Regions from separate parts of the Homo sapiens genome. Here region 1 is linked to region 2. Evidence: fine-mapped expression QTL. Tissue or cell type: whole blood. Region 2 holds a variant in brackets; the other region holds the start of a gene. All regions are shown on one strand. Distances are between the middles of the regions.

What was found. PIP is the estimated chance that this variant, and not a neighbour inherited with it, causes the effect.
Region 1: it holds the start of SESN3, and the variant in region 2 is fine-mapped to the expression of SESN3 in whole blood (INTERVAL, PIP above 0.99). The same link has a PIP of 0.9 or more in lung.

Annotation. Positions count from the first base shown.
Region 1 is chr11:95,226,851-95,234,957 of GRCh38, reverse strand. SESN3 (sestrin 3) reads left to right here and starts at 3,756. Exons shown (of 10, transcript NM_144665.4): 1 at 3,756-4,175. The coding sequence starts at 4,098. LOC100129203 (a long non-coding RNA gene) reads right to left here and starts at 4,772. Exons shown (of 6, transcript NR_110295.2): 1 at 4,463-4,772; 2 at 3,385-3,833; 3 at 2,782-2,906; 4 at 2,284-2,368; 5 at 2,039-2,078; 6 at 554-1,504. RefSeq lists enhancers at 2,098-2,737, 2,738-3,377 and silencers at 3,733-3,882, 3,893-4,202.
Region 2 is chr11:95,168,851-95,176,957 of GRCh38, reverse strand. It overlaps SESN3 (sestrin 3), which reads left to right. Exons shown (of 10, transcript NM_144665.4): 9 at 1,316-1,460; 10 at 3,617-8,107. The coding sequence ends at 3,703. Among named protein-coding and RNA genes, the nearest start is that of LNCRNA-IUR, 22 kb to the right of the region's middle. The variant C/T (reference allele first, on the strand shown) is at 4,011.

The DNA of each region.
Region 1 (8,107 bases), 58 kb before region 2:
GGATTGGTGACAGGTAAGAACATGAGCCTAATCTCTCTGCTTCAAAGCAGTGGATTTTTCTGAACAATTCAATTCACATTTATTGGGGTGCTTTTATAAAGAGTGAAACTCATTACTTTCTCCAAAATTTTTTTGAGCACTTCCCTATCAGTTGAGCTAGGAGCCAAGGATACAAAGTAAATGTTACTCTATCCCTGCCTTCAAGGGGTTTGAAGTCTAATGAGAAAACAGGAGTTAAACCTACCATTTCCCTAGTGAGCTTTTTGGTAAAGAAGAGGTATAGAGGGGCACTATGGATGCTTGGACAAGTGCTTGATTCAGGAAGTGTTTCAACAGAAGATATTCACCAGGCAGAAGGAAGAAGGGAAAGGGATTAAGGTAGAGGTAGGTGGAATACTGATGGGCCTTATGCAGAATGATAGCTTTCAAATGATTGCTCTCACCTGTGTTCTTATTCAAATCTTTCCACAAAATATTATAGCAAGTTGCACCATGAGCCTTAAGACATATGTATACCCTTTTACTCAGAAATTCCAGGCCTAGGAATCAGAGATTCTGCCAGAAACTTAAGTATAAGGAAGTTTATTTTGTTATTTACAATCATGAAAAATCTGAAACAACCCACATATTAAACAATAGCATAAGGATTAAGTAAGTTATGGTACATCCAAGCCATGTAATTTTATGGATTCTTTGCTTAAAAAAATTACACTTTAAAAGAATAATTCAAAACAAGCAACATGATTATGAGATAACAGTTTTGAAATGATGTACAATGTTTAATGAAGTATCATCCTAATTTTGTAATAAAAAATTAAAAAGTAGTTCTCAACATTGGTTGTAATTTTCACTCATATCCTACTTTTCTAAAGTTCTTTCTTGTTTTAAACATACCAGACAACAAAAGGGGTGGAGTTTCTCCTTGTTCTATGTGCAATAAAAAGAACTGGCTTTTGTTTCTTTTCCTCTTAAGTGCGATCCTGGGTTTGAAATAAAATTCCCTTTATAATATTCAGGCTGGCCAAGAAAGGAAGGAAGGTCAGGTGAAGAATGGAAGAGAAAGGAGATGTCCAGAAACTGAACATTTCCATGAGAGAGGAGAATAACTATGATGGGAATGAGGGTGTGAGGACAGACCAGAAAGGGTGGTTGCTGTGTTAAGAATAAGGTACTGGCATTGAGTAGTTGAGGGCAGAACATAAACACATACATAATGGTTCACTGTAAGAAATGTCACAATGTAATACATGATTAACTGCCAAATAAATAGCACTACAGACAATACATATTATAATAGTTTGGAGGAATTTGGTGCAGAGAGCCATCATATGGTCAGATACATGTATGTGACCATGTATTATTGAAGATATTCATCTACTAAAATCTTCCTTTAGCGATCTTTGTTAGAGGGTGTTATTGTATAGGACTAGATTCTCTCGGCTTTCCTTTCTGGAGGATTTAGTTACTGAAGAACTTAAAGGAACTCATTTCGAAAGGATTTTAGCTGTCAAGTGAAAAAAGAAAAGAAAAGGTTATAAGAAGAATGTGCTAGAAAACAATATGAATTTAAAATTCTATTTGAGAAAATTCAATCTGCACAAAAATTCACTTCATCCTTCAATTTCTCCTTTCCTTTAAAATGTACTCACATAAAATCTGCTTTAAAAGCCAGAACCAGCCAGGAATATAGCCCAAGAAATTTACCACTAAATGGGGACACATATGTGTTTCTTAGAAAAACTGTGCCTTGCTGACTTTCTCCCTGCATTTCTTGGTTCTCTGCATCGAAGGGCATGTGGTAATTCCCTCCTTTTCTGAATTTACTTGCTTTTACAGTTTCTTCTAACTGAATCTTAAGCACCTTCCCCACACCATTCATTGCTCTTTAGTTATGTATGTCTACACAGCATCAAGCGACCTTTAGCTAACACTGGCTAAATAGATCAACACCTTTACCCAACTACATAACTTAGACCCTTTTGGGGTTTTCTACTCTATTTTGATCTATTTAAACCTGATACTAGCAGATTTCCATTACCTTTGTTTCTTGTGTAGACTTGGTTTATATGTGTTGGTCTCTAAAAAGGGACAGAGAGGAGACAGCTGTTGAGAAATGAGAATGGCAGTTTTAACCGCACAAATTGGTCTAATAGCTTTGATATGCTAAACTTGCTAGCTCCTCCAAGTGTACCTTTCCGATTTTGCATAACACCACCCTGAATCCCTAAGGAAACCAGGGTTGTTGTTTTTTTTTAATTAAAAAGAAAAGAAAGAAATGCAAACCAGTGAAACCGTTCTTTTAAATCATCTCCACATAGATTTCATTCTACGAACTTCAGGCCTTCACAAATCCTGGTACGCTGGAGACCTTTAAAAAGGGAGAAGCCGAGAATACTGATTAGGTTCTAAAAATCGAAAACAGGTGATGTCATAATGCACAGTCCTGTGGCCACGGCCATGGCCGGGTGGGGAGCTGGGCTCCAGTGAGCACAGAGCTCCTTGCCAGTAGGCGATGCAAGTTATCTCTGGGGCCCGGAGGACACGAGTGAGGACCGGGCACCAATCAGGTTCTCGCTCTGCGCCGGCCTTTGTTCTCACTCGGGAGCAGGTTGCGGGCGTCTAGCATCGGGAACCCGCATTCGACTCGGACGCGCATTGCTAGCCCCTTCGGGAGACCTGGCTCCCCTACCCGTCTGTCCCGCCACACTCGGTCAGCCTGCGCTTTCCCCAGTCAAGTCTGCCTTCTCTCCGCAGAACGTGGACGCTAAAACCCTGACTTACCATTTTAAGCTTTAGAAGAGGTAGGTTTGTCCCAATAGTTTTAAACGACAATTTGTTCTCTGAACCTTCCTTTCTGAGCAGGGCGCTGTGCTCTGCATGTATCCGAACAGCTGCCTCAGGAAGGTCTTTTGGGTGAGAAAACAAGCCCCTTTGGCCTTTTAGTGCTGGACAAGTAAATGAACTTACATCTCTAAGATAACTGCTAGAAGGTGCTTCACAAACAAGAGGAAACCGCTAAACCAGAGGTTTTGTGTCTCTCCCCTCAAACTCGATTACTTGCGTAAATATATATATAACTCAGACATTTATCCCCTATCCGCCTCCCAAGCCTCAAGTAACTGAAATCTTTGCAAAACAAGGTTCACAATAAATGATGCGTAAAGTTCTTTGAGATCCCTGGATACAAAGTACTACATAACTGCAGTCTTCTTTACAGCTAAAGTTAGATTTTGGTGGAGAGAAAGCCTAACCACTGCCCTGAAGGAAGGAACATTTAATCCTCCCACTCCCCTCCCCCTTTCTCGAGAGATCAGGAAATATTTAGCTCAATCTTAGACTCTCTAGCGAGCTCTAGCTCCCAACTATTTATCTCATTCTCCTCACCACTTCTGCAGGGACCTAGAGAAGGGGGCGTAGCTTATCTTGGGGGTGGGGCTTGGAGGGCAGTATATTTGCATATGACACACCCTCGTCCTCTTATTGGCAGAGGAGAGCAAACTGTTCCCTGCTACCCTACTACTTAGCTAACCGCCACCTCCCTTCAGTTCCGAGCCTCGGAGATAAACTTAACTTGCCCGGAGATTCAAGGCTTCCTCGGCCCCTGCGATTGGCCGGCGCGACTCCCAGTCGGGCTCTCGTTGCTCATTGGCTGCGGGCTAGCGCCCTGGGGGCGTAGCCGGAGCTGTCCGATTGGCGGGAGGGGCGGTACCGGAGCGTGGAGGTGGTGAAGGTGGTGGGGCGGCGGAGGCGGGGCCGCACTGAGGCGCTGCGGCGGCGGTGGTGGCGGTGGCAGCGGTGGCGGCTGCTCGTCCTAGCCTGGCGGGGGCGGGGGTCTGGAAGATGGGGGCGGGTGGAACAACGGGCCGGTGAGGAGCAGCCGCCGCCGTCTCCGCCGTCGCTGGGGCAGCTGCCGCGGTGGTCGCCTCTGGCAGTGCCGCTAGCTTTCAGGCAGTCGCCTCTCCTCCCGACATCCCGCCTTGAGGAGGCTGAGGCGGAATCGCGGCTGGCGGCGGGGGGACGGACCGGCCCTGCAGTGGCCGCAGTGACAGCCCGGACCCGGCCCTCCGCCCGCTCTCGCCTCGGCGCCCGCAGCCACGATGAACCGGGGCGGCGGCAGCCCGTCGGCCGCCGCCAACTACCTGCTCTGTACCAACTGCCGGAAAGTGCTGCGGAAGGTACGGGTTCGGCCCGGGGTCCTGCCGGCGAGGGTCGCTTCCTGCCGGCCGGGGCTCGGGCGGCTCGTCCCCGGGCGCGCACTGGGGGAGGCTGAGAGGGATCCCCGGGCACCGTCCCTCCGCAGGGACTGAGAAAGGGGGCGTGGGTTGAGGGCAGGAGGGTTTGGACTACTGCGGCTTTTTATTTCCGCCGGGACAGACCCAAGTCTGGAGGGGTTGGGATATTTTTTCTTCCCTTGTTCCTTTTATTTGGTGCCTTTGCTCTCCTTTACGGCTCATTTCCCTACCTTGCTACCCCGGGTCGGCTCCTTGGGCGGAGGGCGGGAGGGATCCGTTCGATCCTCCTCCCTGTGCAGTTTAGCTGTTGATGGAGGTCGGTGTGAAATCAGAGCAGCTGGGTCGGATCCCGAGGAACCTGGCCCCTCTTTGCTGTGGCTAACTCTTGCGAGTGTTGTTTTTGTTTATTCGGTTGCTTCTGCCTTGCGCGCCTTGCTCAACAACCCCCGTTTTCAAATTGTTTGGATGGTAGTCCTGTGTCTGTAGTTCAGTCTCGAAAGGAACCAGTAAAGCATCTTGAACTTTATGCCCATGGGAAATGCAATTCGACCTGGCCAGTTCCTGAGGCTGGGGTTGGGGGAGGAGAAGACTGAGGTGGATGTGGGTTATTCCTCCTTAGCACCCCCCTGCCCCCGTGTTGATCCAGAAAAATGAGGCGCACCATCAGTTTATTGCTGCTTCCTAGAGTGACTGATAGAAAGTTTACTCCAGTATTGTTTAGCTTACTTGGCTTAATCGCCCCGCGGGGAAGGGCGAGAGGGATGGGGAAGGGAATGAAAAAAAGGTCTCTAGACTTTTTGATCAGATTTTAACAGCTGCCCCAAAGTAATATTATAATCAGTTTATTCGTATTCAAACTCTATTTTTACATTTTATTAAGTGGAAACGTTAGGTGAGATGCTTCTGTTTGTTCACTACAAATGAATTAAAATTGCTGAGCTGTGCAAATGCATCGGGACTGAAAGCGGAGATGAATATGGTACCGTTTTTAGTCAACATCTCTAAATACGGTTCACTTTGGGATTGTTCTTTCTACATTTTTTTTTAAAAAAGGAAGAAAGAAAAAAGCACATAAGTAAGCAAGCTCAAATATTTGCGCTCTTTGTCCAAAAACTGTTTTTCTTCCTCTGTGGGTCAGGCCAAGTGCCAATCAAAGTTGTTTTTCAAGCCTCTTTTCCCTGCAGTAGGGCTGCTGCTTTTTTTTTTCTTCCTATTTTATTTGAGAGCGTGAGAGCAAAGGGATTGCAGATTTGAGGTTAATTGAACAGTTAAATATGCCTTAAATTGTGTTTATTGGATATGTTTCTCTTGAAACAGATTTTTATTAAATGTGCATGTTGAGTATGTGCAGTTATTTTTTTCCATAAACTCTAGGATCAAATTACAGTTGATACTTGCTCAGCTCATTGTAGGGTAGCTTGTGAGAAATGTAATGGATCAGAAGTGCAGATCAGCTTAGTTGGATGTTAACTCTTTCACTGCAGGGCCAGATGTCATCTGAACTTAGCTTTCAAAAAAATTTATTTCTTAATTTTTAAATTTATGTTATGTCTTTGACATGAAAAAATGTGTCATTTAAGACATGTTTGATTAAAGTGCAGCCTGGTTAAAATGACAGCAAGTTATGCTTTTTAATTGAATAAGGAAAAAGAGCACTGTATTGACTTTGATAAAAAAATTTTTTAATGGCTCTGGCAATTTGTTAGGCTAATAAAATGTTTGGAGGTAATATTAGGCTTCAAAATGTATTTCATTTTTCTTTTGAGAGAGCTATGGCTATGGATCCATGACACTTTGCTAGCATTTAAGATATTACATCTTTCCTTTAGCTTTTAGGAAACTATTTCTGTTTACCTAGAAAGAACATCCTCATTTCTAGCCATTATTAAAAGAAACGTGGAAAAAGAGTATTCACATTTTCGTATTTTATAATTGCTGAGCACATCTCTGCCAGTATTCCAGTTTTTAGTAACTCCAAGGTATTTAATATTGATTCATGCAGTGGCATGAAATAACTTAATGGAAATAGGATTCTTTGAGCCAGTTATAACATGACTTGGCAACATTTGCAGCTTTTTAAAGAGTGCCACTTTGAAGTGCTCTTAAGAGAATCAGTATGTAGCATTTTAAATGTTTCATCATTCTTAAAATAACAATGAAAAGTTTATTTCTAATAAAGACATGTTTTTCTTGTTGATATAACTCTAAGTTAAAAGTCATCTATAACTCTCAAAATGTGATTCTTAGAGTTTATCTTGTTTTCCATTTAATAAAGTGTTCAGTAATGTAGCCAAGTGAGTCATAGTATTTTGAATGTTTGTTCAGTCTAATTCATAATGGAAGAATGAAACTCATGCTCATCCAGTGTGAATTACTTTTGCTTTTATATTTCTATATAATGATGGAAGAAGGGTCACCTTTATATGGGACAGAAAGTGTTATTCTCTCAGTAGGTGGCTTAATTTGTTGCAGTGTGTTGAATTTTAGGGGAACTTCACAAGGAATGGAATTCACCTTCAAATGAAATAATATGGTTTAACCCAATGCCTGAATATTGAATTATATATTGTATGAGAATTACATTTATTCTTAGAAGTCCGTTTACGGTTTTGATTTAGTATCCTCCAAAATAAAGAGACTTATTAAAATATTGAATGTACCTAATTTGGTAACCTTAGGACAGTAAAAAGAATGGAGAGGTAAACCATATCCATAAATAAATTAACCATCAAAACTATCCTGAAATCCCTAACTCTTAAGTCTAACTTGCTCTATTGTCAATGAGGTAGTTCAGTAAAGTTTTTAATAAAAGAGGAAATGCTTCTATTTATTTTGTAAAGTTAACGAGTTTTTAAGTTTAATCTTTTACTTGAAGAAATTCTAGTGATAACTAGAAGAACATAATCCTTTAATTTGAAAAGTCATGTGTCAAACTGCATTGAGGAAGGTAGGTAATTATCAGTCCACTCATCTTCCAGTAAATAAAAAAGTGGCATATTCCAATGTACTTTGGGTATTGAGCAGTTAGTGCTACTTAAATGAATAGTTTTGTGCTCTTTAGAGGATCTAACATTTAAACTTTTTTAATGTTAAGATAGTTATAGTGATATATCTTTGTATTGTTATTGCACTTTTCACTTTGTTATATGATCATATATTTTGACATCTTTTTGATGGTTTTATAAACAAAGATACTGTCAAAATGAAAAATACTAGATTGAGGACCGGGCATGGTGGCTTACGCCTGTAATCCCAGCACTTTGGGAGGCCAAGGTGGGCAGATCACGAGGTCAAAAGATCGAGACCATCCTGGCCAACATGGTGAAACCCCATATCTACTAAAAATACAAAAATTAGCTGGGCGTGGAATCGTGTGCCTGTAGTCCCAGTTACTCAGGAGGCTGAGGCAGGAGAATCACTTGAACCTGGGAGGCGGAGGTTGTGGTGAGCCAAGGTTGTGGTGAGCCAAGGTCACGCCACTGCACTGCAGCCTGAGCAACAAGAGCAAAACTCTGTCTCAAAAAAAAAGACAAAAAAAAAAAAGAAAAATACTAGATTGAACTATATGAGCCTCATTTTTATAGTCAAAATTGTTAAGTAATAGCAACTTTATATGGTTTAGCCAATAAAATGTATTTGCTCTATCTGTGGACCACTAGTTACATTATGCCTTGGTTAATCAGTTTTCTTGTGTTACATATTTTTGATTGTCAAAGGCAGTTTTTAACTTGATTATCTTAAATATCCTAAGCAGAGATCAAGTAGTTAATTAGTGATGGCAAACCTTTATGCAATGGTTTTCAAACTGCTTCGTATGGACCCTTAAGATTCTTTGGGGTTTTAAAATGCTTGAGTTGCATTAAATTTTTAAGTAT
Region 2 (8,107 bases):
CCCAAAATTTACTGATAAATCGCCTAATAACACGATATTCCATGTAATAGATTATGGTTGTATGTAATAACTGAGCTATTTGTCCATTTACCATGCTAGACAATGTTATCAAAGAATCAATACATTTTAAAACACATATATATCATATCTACCTACTTAAGAAAAATAAACACCGATAAAACTCAATTTAAATGCAATAAATATGTATTGGATACAAGGCAACAAATGTGGTGAATATATCTGTTGGATGCTACAAAATAAAGCTTACATAAATGCATCAAGATACTCTTTTTATTAAACTAAGCATTATATGGGTTAAAAATTAACTGAAAATGTAACAGAGAAATTCCACAAGTTCCCAATACTACATTTACCTACCTGTCTACATCTGTGCCCATTTACTCTGCTGTCATTACTGTCTATGTTCCTATACACTTATGCACAAAATCCCATTTCTCATTTTCTAAAGATCTCAGTTCTAGCAATGCTCCCTTCTCTCTCCAGCATAATCAGCTTTACTCCCATTTTGGATCTTTCCCATCAGCATTGAAACACACTTAATTTCTCCCATCTTTAAAGAAAATTTCAGTTTCACCTTTCATTTCCATCTGGCTACTGCCTCATTTTCTGCTTTCGTGCGAAGCAAATCTCTGACAAAATTGTGTATATTTACTGTCACTATTTTCTTATCTCCCATTCTCTCTTGAACCTATTCACAGTATCAGGCTTTTGTCCCTATCAACCAACAAAACTGCTCTTACCGAGGTTGCTAGTGACCTCCATATAGCTACTTCCAGTGGTCAGTTCCCAGTTATCTTATTTGACTATTTGGCAGCATGGGACTCAGTGATTACTTGCTCTTCCCTGAAACACTTGACTCCTACCTCAAGTCCTTTACACTTGCTTCTTTACCACCATCTGGTATTTGTTCAAATATCAAGGCTTTCAGAGAAGCCTTCCTGCCCACCCTATTTAAAATAACAACTCCTCTCCTCCCAGACCAAGTTCCATTTCCTCTCCATGGCAGTTATCACCATCTGACTACAATGTGTTTATCTTTTTAATTTTTCTTCGTTTTTTCTTCAACAAAATTTAAGCTCCATGAGACCAAGGATTTTTGTCTGTTTTGTTCACTAGTATATCACTACTACTGAGTACTCATGGCACATAATGGGTACTCAGTAAACATTTGTTGATTCAATTAATTAACGAGCTTTTAGTATTTAATTACTAGACAATAAATGTCCTTAGTATAACTTTGGAAACTAAATATTTTGATTTTGTCATTATAAAGCTATTGTTGTATTGCTCGTAGGTATGATGACTATGATTATGGAGAAGTTAATCAATTACTTGAAAGAAGCCTGAAGGTTTACATTAAGACAGTGACCTGCTATCCTGAGAGAACTACAAAACGCATGTATGATAGTTACTGGCGGCAGTTCAAACACTCAGAAAAAGTACGTGTTTCAGTATTAAGCATTATACCATAGACAGTTCTTCAGTACAAGAAGTAATAGTTATGAAAAATGACACATGAAAGTATTAATAAATTATAGCCATTGACATGGAAGTGGCATCATCTAGCTATCTGGGGTTTTTTTGCTTGTTTGTTTGCCAGGCTGGAATGCAGTGGCACGATCTCAGCTCACTGCAACCTCCACTTCCCGGGTTCAAGTGATTCTTCTGCCTCACCCTCCCGAGTAGCTGAGATTACAGGTGCCTGCCACCACGCCTGGCTAATTTTTGTATTTTTAGTAGAGGTGGGGTTTCACCATGTTAGTCAGACTGGTCTCAAACTCCTGACCTCAGGTGATCTGCCCACCTCGGCTTCCCAAAGTGCTGGGATTACAGGCAGGAGCCACTGTGCCCAGCAGAAACCGTTGTCTTAATAGGTTAACTTTAGTGGTTAAAGAATCTCGAAATGGATGTGCCTTCTGGGCCAAAATACAATTATACCTAATACAACATTTCAGTATGTCTGATTTTTATTAATAGTTAGAACTGTAGACAGTTTTCCAAATGTGCTTTGAAGATATCAGTACTCAGATCTAGTATTTCTAAGGCTTACGATAAACTTTTATATGCTATATTGAACAAAGCATATAACCAAAATTGGGTTACTAGTCAATAAATCTGAATTAAAAAAATATTTTAAAAACCCAGATAGTGGCTGGGTGCAGTGGCTCCCGCCTGTAATCCTAGCACTTTGGGAGGCCGAGGTGGGGGGATCACCTGAGGTCAGGAGTTCAAAACTAGCCAGGCCAACATGTAGTGAAACCCCATTTCTACTAAAAAATACAAAAATTAGCTGGGCATGGTTGTGCATGCCTGTTGTCCCAGCTACTTGGGAATCTGAGGCAGGAGAATCGCTTGAACCCAGGAGGCAGAGGTTGCAGTGAGCCGAGATCACTCCACTGCACTCCAGCCTGGGCAACAGAGCAAGACTTCATCTCTCGAAAAAAAGACAATAGATTTTTACCCAAACTTGGTAATTTAGTGTTTTGACAGTATAATTCAGGACCTTTGAGCCAAATATACTGTTACATAAAAATATTTATTTGAAAGAAATATATAGGCAACATGAAGTTAGAAAACCTAATAAATGTTAAGGATCTTTATCAACATCATAGTATAAGAGCTGGCCTTAAGTCCTAGGACTTTTAACCTTTAAGTTCAAGAATCTCCTTTATACAACAGTTTCGAAGCTTGAAAGTAAGAAAATCTTTTTAGGAAACATTCGCTAATAAACTGTATGATCTTAGCAGAGAATGTTATGGCTTCAGTACCTAACAGATTTTTTGAAGTCTTAGAGCCACTCACATCAGGTAAATACCCATTTTACATCCAGCATTTCCCCTTGATGGGTCTTTATCCCATATTTATATGTTTGCTCTAGATTTTCTTCCTTTTCTAGATTGTATCTAGAAATTCTCTTTACTCTTCAGGAGAATATATCCAACCACATATCCAACTGGTATAAATATATCAAAAGAATATAATATTAAAACATATTTTTATAGTAAATTTTGAAAACTTGTGGATACCCATTTTAACTTATCAGCCGAGATGTAACCCCGAAAGAAATGTTCTGCAGAATTTTATCTGAAAGACTCTAGGGAAGCTATGTATGTCTAACAAGTATCAAACACTAATCAGAAACTTTAAACATCAGATTTTCACTTTAGTATCTTTTAAGTAAATACTAGGAAAAATTTTTTAAAGCTTTTCACAGGATAAGCATAAACTGTTAAAAAAAAAAATGAGGGCTGATTTTTAGCCATGTAAAATTTTATAACTAGAAAGAAATGTAATTTGTAGGAAAATTATAATTTATAAAAATTAGTTTTATTTTATAACCCAACAGATTGACTTTACAAAAATAACAACTTTAATAAAGTTATCAGAATTTTTTAGATTTTATGGGTTATTTTTACTGCTTGCAGAGCCATTAGACACAGGTTTGAGTGTTGCATCATGAACATGGATAAATATGCCTAGGTGTGTGTGTGTGTGTATATTGCTTATATACACATAAAAAAACCTTTGTGAATGTCTAATAAGATTTTCCAGGTGTTTATAATGGTTACTAAACTGATAACATTTTCACTTCTAGGTTCATGTCAATCTACTTTTAATGGAAGCACGAATGCAAGCTGAACTTCTTTATGCTCTTCGTGCCATAACTCGGCATTTGACCTGAAGTATCACCCAAGGAAAATGTCATACATGTGTAAAGACCTTTCACATAAGATAAACATTGAAGCTATTTGTGATATAGCATCAAAAATTATTCAGTTCTCTAGTGTCAAAGTTTAGCCGTTTGTTTTTTTTTTTTTGTTTTTTGCGGCTGTAATGTGCAATGATGTGTTTTATTTTCCTTGATGCTTAACATTACTAACAATTGCAAAAATAATACTGAGGAGCACTACTTTGCATTGTTTGTAGTTGGAGTTTTGGATACTGATCATAAATCATGAATCTGGCGTATTAATGCTTAACTTCAGCGC[C/T]TTTGGGTTGTGTGTATGTGTATTTTTTCTCCCCCCACCCCGCCCTTTTTTTTTTAAGAATAAGGACAAGTGCTTACAATCTGCTCAAGCAATTGTTTTTCAGATATTGGAATTCAGCAAAGAGTGACCTCTCTGGCCATTCTAAAACTTTAATGTTGTGTCCTAAATCTGGTGGAGGAAAAGCATGCGCTGTTGAACCAAGCTGCTCACTGGACACATATTTGTGTCCCCAGGAGATTATTTGTCAGGCACTGTTTTTTATTTGTTTGTTTGTTCATTTATTGTTGTTTTACTGCTATTGGCGATAACATGAAATGTGATACAGCTATTGCCCATAATTTAATGTGAAATTAATCATGATGAATTCTATAGCATGCTACTGAAATGCCAAATTCAGCTATTTTCTTTCTCTTCTAAAATGGAAGTTTCAGTTTTCCATATCAGATGTATATAAGTGGAATTATAACACAATCCTATCACTGACAGTAATCCTCAGTCACCTTAAATAATCAGTGCTCACAGTGCTGCTTACAGTTCATTTAGTTGGCACATATAAACCTGTACCCACACAAGACTGACCAAAAATTTTCTTTGCACATTTTTCCTTTCTCATAGTTTTTTTCTATATTTCGTTAAGCAAAGGAAGGTTAATATGCCTATTTTTCCTGTTAGGCTTTTAGAAATTATTTTCCATGACTTTTGTTCTTATAATAGGTTAGACAGTTTATTTTTCAAAGGTAAAAATTGTGTTTCTATGCATTAATGTGATTGAACTACAAAAACAGAGTGCAATATGTTCAAAAAATACTCAACTAAACTTTCCCCCTGTCATATCACTGCAAAAGTGTCCTTTTAAACAGAGCCATAAAGAAATTTTTTTCAAATTTCTTTATTGCACAGGCTTTTTTCAGTTTTACCTTTCTGGGATTGAACAATGTTCCTTTCATAATGCCAAAGCATTCCCTTCCCCAGAAAAATCTCCTTGGACAACTGGTTTAAAAACGTTATTAAGTCATAGGGGAGGAATAAGCGGCCAAAAAGTCACATTTTTGCATTGGTTTACGTTGCTTGATTAGACTATCTTCAGAGAGCACATTATGTGTTTATAGCTTTAATTTGTATTATGTCAATGAACCAGTGAAGTGCCTAAAGAGATGCTTACAACTATCCAGTAGGACACAACTGCACTGCTTTTTAAACACTTTTTGGTTAGTTAAGGGTGACTTGAATTGTACACATACATGCTAATTTTTGAAAACTTATCCATTTTTCATAGTAAATAATATAGATAAAATTTTCTGTTAGAGTTCCCGCAAATATTTCATTTTAGACTTACTTGTGATATAAGATTTAACTTTTCTTTTGTGAAAGAATCGTGAACTAGTGTTTCATGAAATCATTTTCCTCTTCCATTTATCATCCTCCTCTGGTACAATATATTGGGTTGCTTTCTTTTAGATTTTGTTCCAGATAGGAAAACAAATATGACTGTATACTTATTAACATAAGGTAGTTCTGCATTTTTGGATTCCAGGATCCTGTTTGAAATCTTCCATGTGAGGAAAAAATTACTAATATTTTTAAAGACAGGGTGGTTTATTTAAAGAGATTATTCAGAGAACTTGTGCCATATCTCGTCTGTTTTATTGCATATGCCATATGTTAACTTTTATTCAATATTACATTATGTAGATATGTAATACAAAGAAAATATTTAGGAGAATGGCAAAACACAAATGGCAACATAAATGTCCATTTGACTTACCTAACTTCACAACTTTCAAGTTGAGGATGTCATTTATTCTTGAATTTGTTTTTTTACTAGATGCTTTCAATTAATAGCCCTATATTTTTGTGCAGGCGAACTGTATAACAGGATAAAAAATGATTTGTATGTATTGAAAAGGAGGAGAAATTCTCACAGAACACCATATGAGCTTTAGACCAAAAGGGGAAACAAGGTTTAAGTAACTAAAATGGCCACTTAGTTTGTGTTTATTTTTTTCCCTGGAAATGTAAGTAGTTGGAGTTTAGGCTATGGAAATATTAGTGCCTTTAATAGATCTCTTTCCTTGCAAAGTTTCTTTTTAGCTCAGCATTGATCTATCTTATCAATAGGAAAATAAGTTGACTTGGAACTATAAACAAAAACAACACCATATATTTATGAACCTCAGTGAACCAGCCTAGAAAAATTGACTTCTGCAGGTGCTAAAGCACCTACTAATACGCAGCATGCACAGCATTTCAGGTTGTGAATACCATTTTACAACGAGTTTGCTGTTAACTCTCTTTATCCAATGCAAACTTGAAATTCTGATGCGGTTTTCCAGGGTGGTATTTTTTCAGAGTATTGAATTTACTATTTAGTAATTTATAGTATAGCTTTTTATATTAAAATGTGATATTTTTAAAAGAGATATCTGGTTCAATTGGTATAATGACGTGATTATGCAATATGCTGATCTACACCTTGCGCTCACATTGTGCCAAACTTAAATGTGCAAGTGTACGTGAGAAAAGCACATGTGAATGTGAATTCTTTAATTCTTTGCTTATTATGTTAAAATTAGTCTTCATAGTCCACTGATGTGTATGCTTGAATAATGTCTATTTACTTTGGAATTTCAAGATTTCCAGCTTCAATGGTAATTTATAATTTCTCAGATCACCTTAAGAAATATTGAGATACTCTCCCACCTGAAAATAATCTGTTCTTTAACCCACCTGACTATGGGAGTAGCCAGGCAGGTGCCTCACTGGCTTCTTCAGACGAGGCTTCCTCAGGTGGATATATGACTATTAGGGGAAAAGAGGCTTTTGAGACAGCTTATTACCTCCTTCCCCTTTTTGAACTAAGTACATTGTCTCAGTCCCAGTATGAATTTGTCCCATTTGGGGTATTTTTAAAATAAAAGATGGCTAACATGGAATCTGGGGCATAGCCTTGGCCTTTAATTATGGTTGTAAGCCCAAATAATGGCAGAGAAACACAGGGCTGTTTTTACAACAGAAAACTCAATATAAGTTTTATATAAGAATCCTATAAAATTTGAACCAGAGCTCCTATTTAGTTGTTATAATGTCTCCTAAAGATCTTAAATGCTTCTAAAAGCTAATTATTATTCCAGAGCAACTTTTTCCTTTTCCCCCTTATAAAGTTTTTTTTTAAATCCAAAATCTTAGATTTCTGTGCCACAGCAAAATAAAATGATCAACAATTAAAGATCTGTACTTAAAATAGTACACCATTTTTAGTGGAGGGAGGGTGCATGCCTATATGATGGTAAGATTCTTTTGAACTCTAAGGACAATTCCTCATGGAAAAAATAAATTTCAGTGCATATTATAAAAATGATTTGCACTGTGTTAGCAAAATAAGGTGTTTTAGGTTGTATTTTAAAGACAATTCTAAATCATTTCTCTGGAAAGCAAGACCTTAAATTCTTCTCTTTAATAGAACTGCTTTTATGCAAAGAGATGGTCTTAACATGGACTAAACAGTACATAACAATAATGTTTGTTATGTAAATAGTATATCACATTTGCTTAGTAGCACAATTCAACAGCAGGCTGAAAGTCGTGGCTCCTCTGCTCAGATTGAGTTTTAAGTTACCTAATTTATGTAATCAGAATCTATTCTAGGTGGCCGTCAACGTAAACTGTGTTTCCCTATTATATCCCTCTGGAGACTGAGAATCAAATTAAATAGTCTTTCTTCAAAGCAGTACTGTAACATGAATGTATTTATCTCAGTCAACAGAACTTATATGCCCACTGTATGTGGAGCTTATTTCAATGCTAATTTGGCTTAGTTAGCAGACCTAGAATCTGCCCAGGTGAGACCTAGAACAAAAATAGCTGGGGTGAAATGGATAAGAGAGGTAGAGGTATATGTCAAGGCAGAGCCCTATGAGGAAGGAAGAGTTTTCAAAGAATATGAGGAACATAGTGCTGAGAGTGTGGCTGCCTTCAGCACCGTACACCTAATCTAGAGAAAATATTTCCCATGTGGGAGGTCCTGTCTGCATTCAGTCCACCCTTTTCTGCCTGCTTCTTCCTCCAAGTGCCTCAACCTCTACATGCTCACTCTCCTC